Homo sapiens: one gene and its partner. The gene in region 1 interacts genetically with each later gene. Each region holds a gene or a part of one and is shown in the gene's direction. Other genes may lie near its edges.

Region 1 (8,642 bases):
TTCCACTCCCCTTTTTGGGGGGGGGCCACCTCTCTAGGACTGACTTGGATGTTGGGCTGGATGGGCTGGGATTCAGACAGCCTCAACTCACCACCATTTAGAAAGGTACAGGGATGCTGGGCGTGGTGGCTCACGCCTGTAATCCTAGCACTTTGGGAGACCGAGGTGAGTGGATCACGAGGTCAGGAGTTCGAGACCAGCCTGACCAACATGGTGAAACCCCGTCTCTACTAAAAAAAAAAATACAAAAATTAGCCAGGCGTGGTGGTGCGTGCCTGTAGTCCCAGCTACTCAGAAGGCTGAGGCAGGAGAATCACTTGAACCCGGGAGGCGGAGGTTGCAGTGAGCCAAGATCGCAGCACTGCACTCCAGCCTGAGTGACAGCAAGACTCCATCTCAAAAAAAAAAAGAAAAAGAAATGTACAAGGGACGCATTTTGGTTGTTACGAGGACTGGGATGCATCTGGCATTTAGTGTCTAGGGGCCAGCAGGTGTGGGAGTCACAACATACAACAGGGTAGAGTGTGAGCACTGACCAATCAAAATGGACCTGAGCAGCCCTGCTGGGCCCAGTGTTACCCTTTTACTTGGGGTTGTGGGGGGGGGTGGCCACAGGAGACTGGACATGGAAGTTAACAGTTTGTTATTGTTGTTTGAGATGGAGTTTCACTTTTGTTGCCCAGGCTGGAGTGCAGTAGCATGATCTCAGCTCACTGCAACCTCTGCCTCCTGGGTTCAAGCGATTCTCCTCCCTCAGCCTCCTGAATAGCTGGGATTACAGGTGCCCAACAGCACACCTGGCTAATTGTTGTATTTTTAGTAGAGATGGGGTTTCTTCATGTTGGCCAGGCTGGTCTCGAACTCCTGACCTCAGGTGATTCCCCCACCTCAGCCTCCAAAAGTGCTAGGATTACAGGCGTGAACCACTGCGCCCAGTCGGAAGTAATAGTTATTAACCAATGTGATGGCCGGGTGTGGGGACCCTCGCCTGTAATCCCAGCACTTTGGGAGGCCAAGGAGGGAGGATTGCTTGAGACCAAGAGTTTGAGACCAACCTGGACAACATAGTGAGACCCTGTCTCTACAAAAAAATTTTTTAAAAATTAGCCAGGAATGGTGGCATGTGCCTGTAGACCCAGCTACTCAGTAGACTAAGGTGGGAGGATCGCTTGAGCCTAGGAGGTTGAGGCTGTAGTGAACTGTGAAACAACAACCAATGTGGCTACGTAATGAAATGGGGCTGGGCGGGGTGGCTCATGCCTGTAATCCCAGTACTTTGGGAGGCTGAAATGGGCAGATCACTTGAGCCCCAGAGTTCAAAACCAGCCTGAGCAATGTGGTAAAACACCATCTGTACAAAAAATACAAAAACTTGTTGGGGGTGGTGGTGCGTCTGTAGTCCCAGCTACTGGGGAGGTGGGAGGATTGCTTGAGCCCATGAGTTTGAGGCTGCAGTGAGCTATGATCACACCACTGCACTCCAGCCTAGGTGACAGAGTGAGACCTTGTCTCAAACAAAAAAATTTTAAATTTAAAAAAGATAAAAGAATGAATTGGCTGACTCTCAATCCACTGAGGGGTCAGGGATGGATGTTAAACATCCTCTACAGCTCATCTCATTGAGAAACTCTACACAGAAGATCCCTGAGAAACCTGCCGATGCCCACAAGCCCCAGCAACCCACCACCCCAAGTCACAGGTGGCCACGGAACCTCACTTGCACATGTCCCATTGTGGCAGCTGCTCCGGGATGTTGAGGGCCTTCCGCACGTACGGGTTGTTGAGGTAGGTGGAAGCAGCTGTTGTGTTGGTGCAGGGGGGGTCCATGCGCACTTTATCCCCTGAGCGCAGCAGTGCCTGGAAGGCACAGACAGTGGGTCAGGGCCTCTGCTTCCCTGCCCCTCCCCCTGCCCCCACCTCACCAGGAGGAAGCCCACGCCCTCGCACACCTGATGCCACATCCGCTTGAGTGGCAGGCGAGTGAAGATGTTGCCCAAATCCTGGACCACAACAGTGTCCTTCTCATACCTGCAATGTGAGGTGGGGGAATGGGTGTGGAGCCTCCAGATGGGGCTGGGGTTGGCTCCAGGGGCACCCAGCAGCACCTACCTAAAATGGCTGGGCACCCCTCCAGCACACGGGGCATAGAGATTGTAGATGTTGAGGCCAGAGTTGCCCACGATGCGGGCCACTTCCTGAAGCTGCAATGATACACCAAGCCACCATGCTTTACAGATCCCCAGCCTCTCCACGACCCCACCAAGTTGTCCCAAGATTTACTGCTCTTGGATTTCACCTCTTCACCCACTTTTTTTCACAGGTAGGGAAACTGAGGCTCAGTGGCAGGAATCTTCCCAGACCTGGGTCCAAATCCTAGCATCACTGCCTCCCAACACTGTGACTTCAGACAGTGATTTCAAAATTCATAGCCCTCAGTTTCCTTATCTGGAAAATGTGGGTAGTATGATCTCATTTGAGGGGGAATCTTGAAGCTTAAATAATCTACATAGACACAGTTCAGCACAGTGCCTGCCACGTTGCAGGTGTTTGATAAATGTGAAGAAGTCCTTTCTCCTCACGGAGGTTATGGGATTTGCCACCATAGGAGGTGGTGGTGGGAATACACACTTAGACACATGTCCCAGAGAACACTAAATTGCTTAAAGGTGCAAGAAAGCAATGAGGGACGGAGAACAAGGAGTCCCCAAGGAGGGAATGTGGTCCTGTTCTCAGGATTAGGGATGGGAGAGCTCATGCAAAGTGATGGCAGAACCTCACATTGGTCACGCATTCCAGGTCTTTGTTGTCATAGAAGTTACACTTGTTTTGAGAGCAGCAGTGGGTCTGGAGAGAAGACCAAAGCCTGTAGGAGATGAGAGTGAAAAGCGCATCAGCTGCTGGTGGGAAGAGGAAGGCAGAGGAGGCGAGCATACCCCCCACCTCCCACCAACCTCCCTGACCCTAGGAGACTGGGAAAGATATCACAGGGTGTGGTCTGTATGTCATCTAAGCTAGCTCCCAAAGAGGTGCCCCAGGGTCATACAGACAGGCCTCCTTAGTTCCTTTAAAATCTGATTTCTGGCTGGGCGCTGTAGCTCATGCCTGTAATCCCAGCACTTTGGGAAGATCATTTGAGGCCAGGAGTTCAAGTCCAGCCTGGCCAACACAGCAAAACCCCATCTCTACTAAAAATACAAAAAATTAGGCAGGTGTGGTGGTACGCGCCTGTAGTCCCAGCTGCCTGGGAGTCTGAGGCATGAGAATTGCTTGAACCTGGGAGGTGGAGGTTGCAGTGAGCTAAGATCGTGCCACTGCACTCCAGCCTGGGTGACAAAGTAAGAATCTGTCTCAAAAAAAAAAAAAAGAAAGAAAGAAAAACTGATCTCTATTCTTTGGCCTTTCAGCACTAGGTTCTTTCTGCAACCCACCTGCTGCTCATAAACCTGGGCTGGGCCTGTCATATCATGTGCCTGGAGGACAGACCTGAGATCATGTGACCTGCCTCACCCCAGAGATTGCCCAACTGCCCTATCCCATACCTGTTCCCCAGAAGGCCATGGTAGTAGGCAAAGTAGACCAGGGAGTTGTCATTCTGCTCATAGGAGGAGAGTCCATTGCCCACAGCCAGCCCCTGTGAAACACCCAGGGTGCTCAGCTCATGTGGAGGGCAAAAAGGAAGAGCCTCCCTCACCCTACCACCCAGACCTTCAGCAATCCGGAAGCTGAAACCCAGGGTGGTTTATGTAGGCCGGTGGGTATGAGAGGCCACTCAATGCAAAACACAGAGCTGGCAGCCTGACAGGTGAGTTTCCTGTGTGGGAGGCACACAGACAGACCTAGGGCAGCCGGTGGTGGGGAGGTTATGCAGGAAGCTGGGTTGGATGGGGACATTGACCAGTCAGTCTGACCTTGCTAACTGTAAGGCCACAGCCTCAAGCTACCTCCCTTCCCTCCTGCAGCTACCCTGCACCTGAAGGTTCATGCTGGGATCCTGCATGACCAGCACGGCCAGGGTGGGGATGTAGATGCCAGCATAGCTCTCCCCGGTCAGGAAAAGTTTGTTGTTCTTGTACTCCGGAAAGAGGCGGAAGAAATCTTGAAGGGCCTCAAAATTGCTCTGGGCGACCTGGGGATGGCAGAGCAAGACAGAGGGAATCAGGAAGCTTTGGTATTTGAACTGGAAAGAACTTCAGAGATAATGACATTAACCCACCCTATTTGTGCAAGAGGAAGTGACTGGCCACCATACCACAATAGCATATGACAGAGCGAAAAGTAGACTCCAAGGCCATGCTCTCTCTCCCAGCATCATGCCATGGATGGAGGACCGGGGAGCCTGGGGCAGATGGGCAGGCACCAGACTCACCTCAGTGTCATTAGTTGCATAAAACTTGTCATCGGAGTAGGAGAAGCCCACCCCAGCTGGGGACTCCAGGTATAACACATTGGCAATCTAGAGGGGAGGGAAAAATTAGCTAAATGCCACCCCATCCAAGTGCCCAGACACACCCACAGCTCCAGCTATACCAGATTCCAAGAATAGGGGTTGTACTCCAGGGTGACACCATCTGGCTGGACCTGAGGAGGAAAGAGATGGCTGAGTAAGTCCCAAGGGCCAGCTGGGTGGAGGGAAAGGGCCACCATGAGAGGCACTTTACATGTGGGTAAAACCTCTGAGAGGTACAGGCAGCAAAGCCAATGGCATAGAGGAAAATCCCGAGGCTTAGAAGGAAGGAAACTTTTTGGAAAATCACAAAGCCCCTCTCTCGCTTTCCCCAGCCTTTTACTTTGGGAACTGTGCTTTCCCCCTGCTGTCCACTCACCAGGAAGGGGCCATGCTCTGTGAGGAGCCCATCTAGTGAGCTGCAGCCGGGACCCCCATTGAGCCAAAGCACCACAGGGCTGTTCTCGGGATCCTTCTGGGACTCCACAAACCTGGGAGGGGGGTCAGGGCAGGGTTGGCGCAGTTGGAGGGGCCCTTTCCAGCCCTCCCGGCTCCCAGGCATCCTCAGGGGTCTGCAGAACTACCCCCCATCCCTCATCCGTCATCTCTTCTCCCAATCCCGCCCAGAAGGCAGGGCGGCAGACCAGTAGTGGAGGTGCTTGGAGCCGGAGCCTTTGAGGTAGCCGGAGTACTGGCGGAAAGACGGCTGCTTGGCCAGCCCGGGGAGGCGCTGGATCTCGTCCTGGTCGGGGGCTGCCTCGCCTCGGGACGCCCAGGACACTAGCAGCAGCAGCAGCAGCAGCAGCAGGAACAGCGGCGGCGGCGCGGCTCGGATCATCTACGGGAGGCAGCAGAGGGGCTGTTGACTCGCTCCTCAGCGCTTCCGTGCAGCAGCCCCCGGGGAGTTGCTGGCGGCGCCTCCGCGAGGGAAGCCCCGGCCCCAGCGCCAGCTCCCACCCGCGAGCCTCCTCTGCCGCGCACCGATCCCGGGCTCGGGGATCCCCTCCAGCCTCCGGTGCCAGCTCACCTCTGCTCCCCCGCGTCCTTGCTCTCCAGGAGGCGCCCGGGGACTGGAAGTCATGTGTACGAGTCACGTGAACTCCGGCGCCACGTGACAGTCTTCCTCCCGCCCCTTCTTTGGTCCCTACGGACCTGGGGGGCGGTGGCGGTCAATGCCGGGTCAAGGTCCGCGGGCCTCGCAGATCGTAGCCCGGGCGCACGCGATCAGATGATCCTGTTGTGGACGGCTAAGTTGTAGGCGGGATGGCTGAGAAAGCGGCGCTAGGACCCCCGGGCAGAGGCTCGGGGAAGGGAGTCAGGGGGGAAATGCCTTACAAGGTCGCCTTGCGGTCACCATCATTGCCCGCCGCCCAAAATAGCCCCCGGCGCCAGCTGGCCTGCCCTATGGCCGAGAGATGGCTGCTGCCTCCGAGCCCGTGGATTCGGGTGCACTCTGGGGACTCGAGCGCCCGGAGCCCCCTCCCACCCGCTTCCATCGGGTGCACGGTGCCAACATCCGCGTGGACCCCTCTGGGACGCGGGCCACACGCGTGGAGAGCTTCGCCCACGGCGTGTGCTTCAGCCGCGAGCCGCTGGCCCCGGGCCAGGTCTTCCTGGTCGAGATCGAGGAGAAAGAGCTGGGCTGGTGCGGACATCTGCGTCTCGGTCTGACCGCGCTGGACCCCGCCAGTCTGGCCCCCGTTCCCGAGTTTTCTCTGCCCGATCTGGTCAACCTGGGCCACACCTGGGTCTTCGCCATCACGCGCCACCACAACCGCGTGCCCCGGGAGGGCCGCCCGGAGGCGGAGGCAGCGGCCCCCAGCCGACCTCCAACCCTCCTCGTGGAACCATATCTGCGCATTGAGCAGTTTCGCATTCCCCGGGACCGCCTGGTGGGCCGCAGCCGGCCAGGGCTCTACAGCCATCTCTTGGACCAGCTCTATGAGCTGAACGTGCTGCCTCCGACCGCGCGCCGTAGCCGCCTGGGTGTCCTCTTTTGCCCGCGCCCCGATGGCACGGCCGACATGCACATCATCATCAACGGCGAGGACATGGGCCCGAGCGCCCGGGGACTGCCAGCTGCGCAGCCCCTCTACGCGGTGGTGGACGTGTTTGCTTCCACAAAGAGCGTGCGCCTTGTCCAGCTCGAGTATGGCTGTAGGTATCCCTGGGCAGCGACCCCTCCTGGCTCAGTGTGGGGACTGGAATCTACTAGGGCTCCGTAGCCCATGTGCTAGGCCTTCGTCTGTCCGGCACTAGTTTAAGAGTGGGAGAATCTAGCTTCAAATTGCACCTCTGCTTGTGATCTTGCACAAGCCTCTACATGGTTTTGGGCCTTGGTACCTATCTTGGTTGATTGATTAAGATGCCCTACAAGTTCCCTTTTAGTTTTGATAGTGTTTCCTGTATTCACCTAGGGCAGGGATTCTAAACCAATTTTAGATATTAGGGGCCTCTTTGAGAATTGTTTGCCCTTTTCTTAGAAACATGCTTGGCCGGGCACAGTGGCTCACACCTGTAATCCCAGCACTTTGGGAGGGGGAGGCAGGCAGATCACTTGAGGCCAGGAGTTCGAGACCAGCCTGGCCAACATGGTGAAAGCCTGTCTCTACTAAAAATACAAAAAGTAGCTGGGTGTGGTGGCATGTGCCAATAATCCCAGCTATTCAGAAGGCTGAGGCAGGAGAGTCACTTGAACCCGAGAGGTGGAGGTTGCAATGAGCCGAGATCTCACCAGTGCACTCCAGCCTAGGCAACAGAGCAAGACTCTGAAAAAAAAAAGAAAGAGAGAGAGAGAGGAAGAGAGAGAAAGCAAGCAAGCAAGCAAGCTAGCTAGCTCAAGCCTGGGCAACAAAGTGAGACCCCATCTGTACAAAAAATTAAATAATTATCTGGGCATGGTGGTGCATGCCTGTAGTCCCAGCTATTTGGGAGGCTAAGGCAGGAGGATCGCTTGAGCCCAAGAATTGAAGGCTGCAGTTCACTGAGCACTGCACTTCAGCCTGGGTGACAGAGCAAGACCCTCTCTCTTTAAATAAAAAAAAAAAAAGAAAGAAAAGAAAGAAACATGCTCATAGACTTGGGCATATTGGCTATTGGCTTCGAGGCATAACAAACCCCAGACTGAGAGCTTCTTAATGCTGAGTATGATTCATTATAGCCCTGGTAAGCATTGCAGTTATACCTCTCATCACATTTCATGAACTCAATGCACCAGAACCCTCTTTGTGCCAGGCCTGTGCTGGAGGCTTCAGTTGCACAGGCAAATCAGACACTACCCCTGCCCCCAGAAGCTGCTAAGTGAATGGGGAAGGGATTGTGCTAAGTGTTATGATATAAACAGGGCTGCAGCTTTGTGGCAGCTCTCAGGAAGAGGTGCTTCTCTCAGCCCCATGAAGCAGGCTGGGCCCAGAGAGCAGTAAGGACTTGCCCACATTTAATGACAAAGTGGGGACCATGACCTAGACCTTCTGGATCTTGGCCTCAGACCCACCCTCCAGTTCAGTTTGCCTTTCACAGTCTTCTTCCCACAGTGCCATCCCTGCAGACTCTGTGCCGCCTAGTGATACAAAGGAGCATGGTGCACCGGCTGGCCATTGATGGGCTCCACCTGCCCAAAGAACTTAAGGATTTCTGCAAGTATGAGTGAAGACCCACAGTGCACCAGAGCACAGCTGCATCCTGGAGCCCCAGACCTGTGGCTGGCTGGTCCGAAGTTGGCCACATTGCTGCCAGCCAAGACCAGAAATAAACAGCCGATGCTGACATCTTGATCACTGGAAGGTCTCCTTGCCCCTACAGCCTATGAGAGTCACTTCGTTTAGAATCACTGCAGGTCAGCAGGTCGGAGCAAAAGAGCAGGGGTCCCTAGGCTGGCTGCTTGTTAGAGTCATCTTAGGATATGTAAAGAGTGCTGGTGTCCCACATCCCATCCCTAGGGATTCGTATTTGATTTGTTGGGAAATTAGGCCTAGACATTGTGTTTTGTAAAAGCTTCTCAAGAGATTCTCATGTACAGCCAGGGTTGAGAAGTATGTCCCTAGAAAAAAGGTTCCAACTTTGTCATATATTATAATCACTTGAGGAATTTTGAAAAATACCAATACCTGGCCTGTAATCCCAGCACTTTGGGAGGCCGAGGTGGGCAGATCACTTGAGGTCAGGAGTTTGAGACCAGCCTGGCCAACATGGTGAAACC
Region 2 (7,615 bases), on another chromosome or scaffold:
ACGGGTGCTTCCTTCCACCCAGGAGCCTGAGCAGAGGGTGGAGGGTCCTGGCAGCTACCTACGGCAGCTGAGAGCTGCGCTCTTTAGCCGAGCGGGATCAGGGCTACGTGGACACAGCCCGTGCCAGTGTGGGTGGGGCACGAGCTGTGGGTTCCGATGGCCCAGTAGGCGTTCACCTGGCAGAGAGTGTGCGCGTGTCTCCCCTCCTTGGGGCGCCTCAGGTCAGGACCCTGAGAACCTCACTTATCCTTTGAGCTGCGCCAAGGCTGTTGTACAAAAGACAGTTCAGAAAATAAGGACAGGCTGTTCCTCCCAGCCAAGGGTGTGGCCCTAAGGACCCCTAGGTGGGGCATCGCTTCCCGCCAGGCACGTGCCACTCAGTCTTGGGCTGCTTTAGTGGCAGCCTCCTGGTTTGGAAGCGGAACTGAGGGTCAGGGATGACCACATGGCTCAGGGCTCAGCTGGGGTCCTGAGAGTGGGCCCTCAGGTTTACCTTCCTCCTGGAGGGGAACTGGGGGCCATTGCCCAGTGCACCCCCACTTCCCCTTAGGTGCGTGGGCCACCCCTCCCTCCTGCAGCCCCCGTTCATCTACCCAGGATAGGTGCATGGGCCACCCCTCCCTCCTGCAGCCCCCGTTCATCTACCTGGGGAAGGTGCGTGGGCCACCCCTCCCTCCTGCAGCCCCCGTTCATCTACCCGGGGTAGGTGCGTGGGCCACCCCTCCCTCCTGCAGCCCCCGTTCATCTACCCAGTGGGGATGTCCCCTGGCTCCTCTCCTGGCATCTTCCCGGGATGTAGGGGTGCTCCCATGCCCCCCGGCTCCTCTCCTGGTGTCTTCCCCAGATGTAGGGGTGCCCTCATGTCAGGGCTTATGCTTCTAGAAGGAGTGGAAATGCAGCACAGTCATTGCTGTTGCCTGCCAAGGGCCACCCTGGCTGGGGACAGATGGGGCTGCCTCCCCTCTCCCACCCTGTCCTGGCCACCTGCCCCCGCCAACCCTGCCACTGGCTCAGAGGAAGCAGGCCTAACCTGATGTGTAACCCCCACCCCTGCCGTGACTGTAACCCCGTGCCATGTGAAGGTGGGGCTCCTTGGCAGTGCCTGGTGATTGCGGTACAGCCAGAACCGGCCCCATTATCTGGGCTGTGGGTGCCATTGGTCAGGACCGTGATGGACTCATACGTAAAACTTGATGCATTTTAACTCCCTTCATCCTAGAGGATTGAGACCTCTGGCGGGTAAGTGTTCATATTACCGTCCTGCCCTAGAGCCAGGGAAGGACCCTAGGGGAGAAGTGACGTGCCAGGGTCACTGCTGGGAGGAGAGCAGGAATTTGAACGCTGGCCATGCCTCCTTTTTGGGGAAAGGTCAGTAAATGGGCAGGGGAGGGTGCTGGTCATTTGGGTGATGGTGCCAGTGGGGTGAGCAGCTCCAGGTCATCAGGTGGTATGGAATCTGGCCCCGGGCAGCCCGTCCAGCATTCCTCTCTCACCGAGCCCACAGCCCTGGAGCACCTACTGTGTGCCTGCTCTGGCCCACTGGGAACAGGACAGTCCCGAGCCCTGCCCCGAGGAGCTGGCGCCAAGTGGAGCAGCTGCACCACAGGCACACGGGGGACAAAGGGCACCGCTGATGATTTGGCCAGGAAGAGATGAGGTGGGGATGGGGGCTACAGGGTGGGGAGACGGTGGCCTCGGGAAGGGCTAGCTTGGCCACGCCAGCTTGGTCATGTCACCTTCTGAGTCTCAGTGTTCCCTTCTCACGTGGGACAAGACCACGCATAACCCGAGGGGCTGCATGTGTGGAGCCGACAAGCTGACGTGCGGGTCCTGAGTGCACTGAGCCCGCTGGGGTTCCAGACACAGTGGATGAACGATCCAGGGAAGGAAACAGCCTGGGCTGTGCTCTCTGGGACCTGCCCTTGAGCCAGGTACTCCTGTGGGAGGGTAGCCGGGCTGGCTGGGGGCCTGGAGCCCACAGCCTCTCCTCCCTTGCTGTTTTCCCGGCCAGGGAGGAAGCCAGGCTGGAAGACCCCAGAGGGCTAGGGGGATGAACACAGGTTGATCTGTGTTGAATTTGGCTCTAGCCACCTCCTCAGGGCCAGAGCGGCTCCTGGAGCCGGAGTGAGAGCTGTGTTACACGCAGGGAAGCCGGGGCTCGGGGAAGGTGGCTGCCAGGGTGTGCAGGGCTGTGCCAACCTCATCCTGGTGGGTCCCTGTGACAACAGGACAGGCTGCCTGCCCATTGTACAATGAGAGGCTGATGCTCTGTCACTTCATGAGGTCACACAGGCTCCAGGCAGTGGGGGGCTCTCTGAAGGAGGTCCCAGTGACCTGAATGGAGCCCCCGGGTGGGCTGAAACTTCTGCCTGTAAGGCCTGTCCTGGGTTGGGGTTGGGTGGGAGAGGGCAGGAGTCCTGCTGGGAAGGGCCTCTGCCATGCCCAGCTCCTACCACAAGTACAGAACAATGACAACTCCGCCACCTGGCTGCCCCACGCTGGGCACATGCTCCCCGCTGGCCTCAGTTGGGAGTCCAGTGAGTCAGGAGGTGAAGGTGGGGTGCACGTCCCCTGCAGACCCTCACAAGGCAGGTGGCGGGGCGGGTATTGGTCATGAGAACCCTGCCTTGGGGCCTGAGTGCCTCGGTGGCTGTGGAGCCTGGTTTCGACCTCTTTGGGACCAGTGTTCTTGTCCATAAAAGGCAGTGATCTTTCTGGATAGTTCAGAGAGATTCTGTTATCTTTGCCCATCAGAGCTGGAAGGGAGTTGAACAAAATGTTTTGCAGAAATTGGACCTGAGTTGGGCATTGCTCCTCCTGCTGCCCCTGGTTCTGAGGGCTTGGCACCACTAGCCCGCTCTCTGTCCAGGGTCGGCCCGGCTCCTGCCTTTATCATGTGTGAGCCTCGCTGTGTGTGGCTCAGTCCTGGACGGGCCGAGACCTGGATGCAGGACCCTGGACAGTCAGCGCAGGCGGAGCAGGGAGGGAGGCGTCTGCCTGAGGCCTGCTTGGAGGTGCCCAGGCTGGAGCCCTTGGCCCTGGAAGATGTGGTCAGGGCCCAGTGGTGTTGGGATGGCCAAGAAGAGGGCCCCTGTGCCTTCTGCCCAGGGCTTGGCCTAGCCAGTGCTCAGGGTTTATTTGCTGGATGAGGGGTGGAGTGGGCCAGTGGGGCCCAGGTCTCCTGCTAGGTGACCCTCAGAGGTGGGCATAACATCCCTTGGAGTCTCTGCTCTGCACTTGCCAATAAGAGGCTGGACCATTTGAGTGGTTATAAGTTGGGAAGCACTCCCTGATTGCTTGGTTCTGCTTGAGGCACAGCCTCCAACTCCCAGAGATTCCAGCACCCCTGCAGGAGCCAGCGTTGCTGATGTGGGCAGACGGGCGTCTGGGAACACCCCAGACTCAGCATACTAGGGTTCAAGTCCCTGACTCCCATCCTGGGGCATGGAGTGGCAGGAACCAGGGAATGTTCTAGAGTGAGGTGGTGAGGTGGAGCAGGGCCTGCGGGGATCAGATTTCCCTGGGGTGGGGTCCTGGAAATAGGGCATCAAGAGGAAGTCTCTAACCCTGGGAGTTGGAGGGTCTCGGGTCCATGGCTGAGGGTGGATGTGCTAGAACTGGACTCTGGAACCTGAAGACCCCCGGATGAGGGTGCTCAGGGCCTGGCTGGGGAGACTCTTGCCTTGTTCTCCCCAGTGTCCAGGCCTGGGCTGCCCAGGGGACACTTCAGTTGATGACGTCATTGTCCAGGAGGCTTTTCTCTTGGACCTCAGTTTCCCCTTCTGCAGGATGGGCTGGACCCACTCTGTCTAGCTCTACCACCCCCTAGTCCCTCTGGGGAGCTGCAGGAGCCTGTTCCCACGGCCTCGTCCTCACCCGCCACGGAGACCTCGAAGCCAGGCCTGGCCCAGCTAGAGGAGGTGACGGGTGGCCCTGCCCTGTCCCTGTCCCCATCTCAGTCCCCTTCCCACGGGACCGGTGCTCCCGGCTGCTCTCCTGGCCCTGGGTCCCTCCTGTGACTCAGGCTTCCTGGAAGAGGCTCGGGAGGGCTCGGAGGATTCCCCGCCACCCCACCCAGGGTTTCTGCCCGCCTGCCTCAGGTCCCTGTCACCACCCCTCCTGTGGCACACGGTGTGCTTTACCTGCTCATCCACTCCGCCCTTGCCCCTAGAGCCGGTGCCTCTTACTCCTGGCACCCCCACTCTGGCATCTTCTACTGATGCCTGGAACGCTGGCCCCCTCCTCTGGCTCGCCTGGTCCTGGGGCCCCTGCCAAGGCAAACATCTTCTCCTTTAATCTCCCCGTCCTGGGTCAGCCGCAGAGGCCCTTCCTCCCGGGCTTTGCTTCCCTCTGGCCAGCTGCCCAGAGGCCCATCTGCTGGGAATTGCCGTGTGGAGCTCAGGGGGTCCCTGGGGGTGCCCGGGGCTCCCGGCTGCCCCTCCCCTCGGTGGCCTCCCTGTCCCCTCCGCATGGCCCTGGGGAGCTACAAGGCCTGGCCCTGGCTCTGCCGACTCTCCCTGCTCCTGCCCTTTCTGGGCCTCCGTTTTTGTGTCTGGAGAATGGGGAGCCTGGGGGAGACCCCGGCCCCCACAGCAGATGGGTGGGATCAGGACAAAGGCCTGGCAGCTGAGCTCCAGCCACCTGAGCCAGGCTGCTTGCTTCTGAGTCGGTGACTGCAATGGATGGACGGGGTCCTGGTGGCATGCCCTTTACTCTCTTCCAGGCCTGTGACCTGGGGGAGGGCTGTCCATGGGTGCCTCAGTTTCCCTACCTGCCAGGTTGTGTTCTTGGGGCAGGCTGGGGACGTGCAATGGCAGCACTGCGGGACCCACAAGGAGCTCACATGGGGGAGAGGCGACATTTGAACAACGCTTCAAACATGTAGTTATTGTTTTCTCTTTTTTGAGACGGAGTCTCACCCTGTTGTCCAGGCTGGAATACAGTGGCACGATCTCAGCTCACTGCAAACCTCCGCTTCCCAGGCACAAGCGATTCTCCTGACTCAGCCTCCTGAGTAGCTGGGACCACAGGCATGCGCCACTATGCCCAGCTATTTTTTGTAGAGATGGCATTTCACCATGTTAGCCGGGCTGCTTCTCCTGGACTCAAGTGATCCTCCTGCCCCAGCCTCCCAAAGTGCTGGGATTACAGTGTGAGCCACTGCGCCCGGCCCACCACTGTGCCTGGCCTGCCTCTGCGCCTGGCCCACCTCTGCGCCTGGCCCGCCTCTGCACCTTGCCCACCACTGTGCCCGGCCCACATCTGTGCCCGGCCCACCACTGTGCCAGGCGCAAACGTGGTTATTGTTTTAGACACACATTTGGTGATGTTCATTATAAAAATTCAAACAGCCTGGGAAATACACGGCTGCAGTAGCTCTGGGCTTCTGCTTCATTTCACAAGAACCGTGCCGGCCTCGGGTGCTGTTTTACAGTGTCACTTGAAATTTCCCTGGGTGTTGACTGGGGTCCTCTCCCGATGGCACCCTTGGACCCTGGTCTCTGGGTCTGGTCAGATGCTTGTTTATTAACCAGCCATCCCCCCACCCCCATGATGGGCTCTCCTAAGTGAGGCCATGGACAGCCAGGATGTGCGTCTCGGCACCGGGGTGAGTCTTTCTTGGCCCGCTGGCAGAACCCTGGGTCAGATGGGAGGGTTGTTGGTGCCCGGCTGTGTGTCTGCCAGCCCCTTCATCCCTATCCTGGCTGCTGTGTAGCTCCTGCCTCCCCATAACTCTTGGGGGGCTGCCCGGGTCCACACTGGCCCCGTGGGGATGGCAGTAGGCAGAGAGGGGCGGTCCTGACCCCAGAGAAATCCCATGGGTGAGTAGGACTTGTAGGAGATGGCAGTTCCCTCCCTGGAGCATGTGTCCCCAAGACTTAGAGGTCGTGGTGGGGCAGGAAGCAGGTAGTCAGGGTGGGCTTTTGGGAGGAGATGGCATCACAGTACGGAGGGAGTCATGCACGAGGCACCAGGAAGGGGCAAGCCGGGTGAGGACAGGCTCCTCCTGGGGACCCAGGACCTGACGGAACGGCATCACTCTTAATGGCACCGTCGCGAGCCTCTTCTGGGCCAGCAGCCGGAGCTCACCCAGGGCACATCCTTAAACCTCAGGGTCCCCTGGTGGCAGCTGCCATGGTCGTCCTGTTTCCCAGGGAGGGAAGCTGGTGTCTGAGGCTGGCACTCTGCTAGGTAGCACAGTTGGGGAGTGGCAGTGCTGGGATGGAAGACAGACAAGCTGGCACCTGCACATCTGCACGTCCTGTCGTTGAGGTGACCTCTAGCCAGCCAGCTCATCTGCTCCTTTGCAGATGAGGCCAGAGAGACGGGAGTCTCTGGTGTGGAGGGGAGGGCACTGGGTTTGGTGGGCTGGCCCTGGGGTAACTTGCCTGCCTGTGCTTCAGTGTCCCCCTCTGTAAACAGGGTGTGACGTCCCCCCGGCCATGTCGGAGGCTCCGAGAGGGCAGCGGGTCCATCTCAGCAGATGCTCTGCTGACGGATGCTGCTGGCTGGCCCCTGCTCCCACCCTCCCCTCCTTTGGTAGCCTCCCTGGGCCGGGCTGTTCCCACGGCTGCCCAGCCACAGGAAGCCATCTGGAGGCCTTGTTTACCCCTCCCCCTGGCCTCCCTGGCAGGAAGTCACCGGAAGGGCCGTCCCGAGGGGCCCCGGGCCTGTGAGGACAGCCATCGGCTCAGAGGTCTGTGCTGTGGAGTCCCAGGATAGCATGCGGGGGCAGGGAGCTCAGAGAACAGCAGGTGGAGCGGGGCTCCAAGGCACTGGAGCACGTGGGCCGGAGCATGGACAGAACCATTTACCGAGCGCATCCATCTGTCCATCCACACAGTCACCTACCCCTCCCCCGCTGTGGCCCCAGCAGGGCCCAGTCCCATGAAGCTCACAGTCTCAAGGCATGGACGAGGCCACTCCAGCTTCAGCCCAGGGGGGCCCCGTGATGCCAGGGCCATTCCTCCAGCTCCCGGGATCCCACACCTCCCCTGATATCACACAAGCCACCCTGGGTCGGGGCTGGAGGAGGAGACCTGGGCAGCAGCTGGGGTGTCCAGGAGAAGGGAGTTGGGGAGAGGGGTGCCAGCAGAGGGTGCAGCCTCTAGAAACATTGGAGGCCGCCCTGGGTGACGGGTCTGAGGCTGCAAGGTGTGGGTGGAGCAGGTGAAGGGAGAGGTGGGCAGGCACAGCTGGCAGGGGCTGAAGGCATGGATGGGACCAGTCGGGGTACTTGTGGCCCTGCAGAACCCCTCTCTCCACCACCTCCTCCAGCCCTCTGGCGCCCTGCTCAGGGAGGGCTCCCCCAGATAACCCTGTAGGTCTGGACCCTCCTGGAGTGGGCTCAGGGGCCTGGGTTTCCACTCCACAGGATGGGTCCAGCTGCCCCGGCATTTGTGGCAGCCCCAGTGCCCACTGACAGGCCTGAGTGTAGCTGGCTAGGCCCAGGGCCTTTCCCACAGACACTGCCAGCAGGGACTACCTGGCCCTAGGGGGATCTTTGACCTCCGTGGGGCCTTGCGCCCTGTGTTCTTGGCGGCCTCGCGCCTGTCCCGGCCTCCTGCCTTCGGGAGCTGGGTGGAGTGGGGGCAGGCAGCCCTGCCCCCGCCCA

The links. A genetic interaction does not mean that the proteins touch.
Region 2: changes in NEURL2 (region 1) and PTP4A3 together harm fitness less than expected from each alone (positive genetic interaction), as found in Homo sapiens cells (one study listed by BioGRID).

The regions. Positions count from the first base shown.
Region 1 is NC_000020.11:45,888,209-45,896,850, reverse strand, and holds NEURL2 (neuralized-like protein 2), read left to right. Parts: upstream 1-5,642; 5' UTR 5,643-5,859; coding exon 5,860-6,601; exon of another isoform or gene 6,602-7,963; coding exon of another isoform or gene 7,964-7,977; coding exon 7,978-8,093; 3' UTR 8,094-8,217; downstream 8,218-8,642. Other genes in the region: CTSA (lysosomal protective protein isoform b preproprotein), read right to left, coding at 1,718-1,857, 1,950-2,028, 2,110-2,201, 2,779-2,863, 3,540-3,631, 3,971-4,126, 4,367-4,453, 4,528-4,578 and 2 more. UniProt on the Homo sapiens protein: Plays an important role in the process of myofiber differentiation and maturation.
Region 2 is NC_000008.11:141,395,021-141,402,635, forward strand, and holds part of PTP4A3 (protein tyrosine phosphatase type IVA 3), read left to right. Parts: intron 1-5,550; exon of another isoform or gene 5,551-7,615. UniProt on the Homo sapiens protein: Protein tyrosine phosphatase which stimulates progression from G1 into S phase during mitosis. Enhances cell proliferation, cell motility and invasive activity, and promotes cancer metastasis.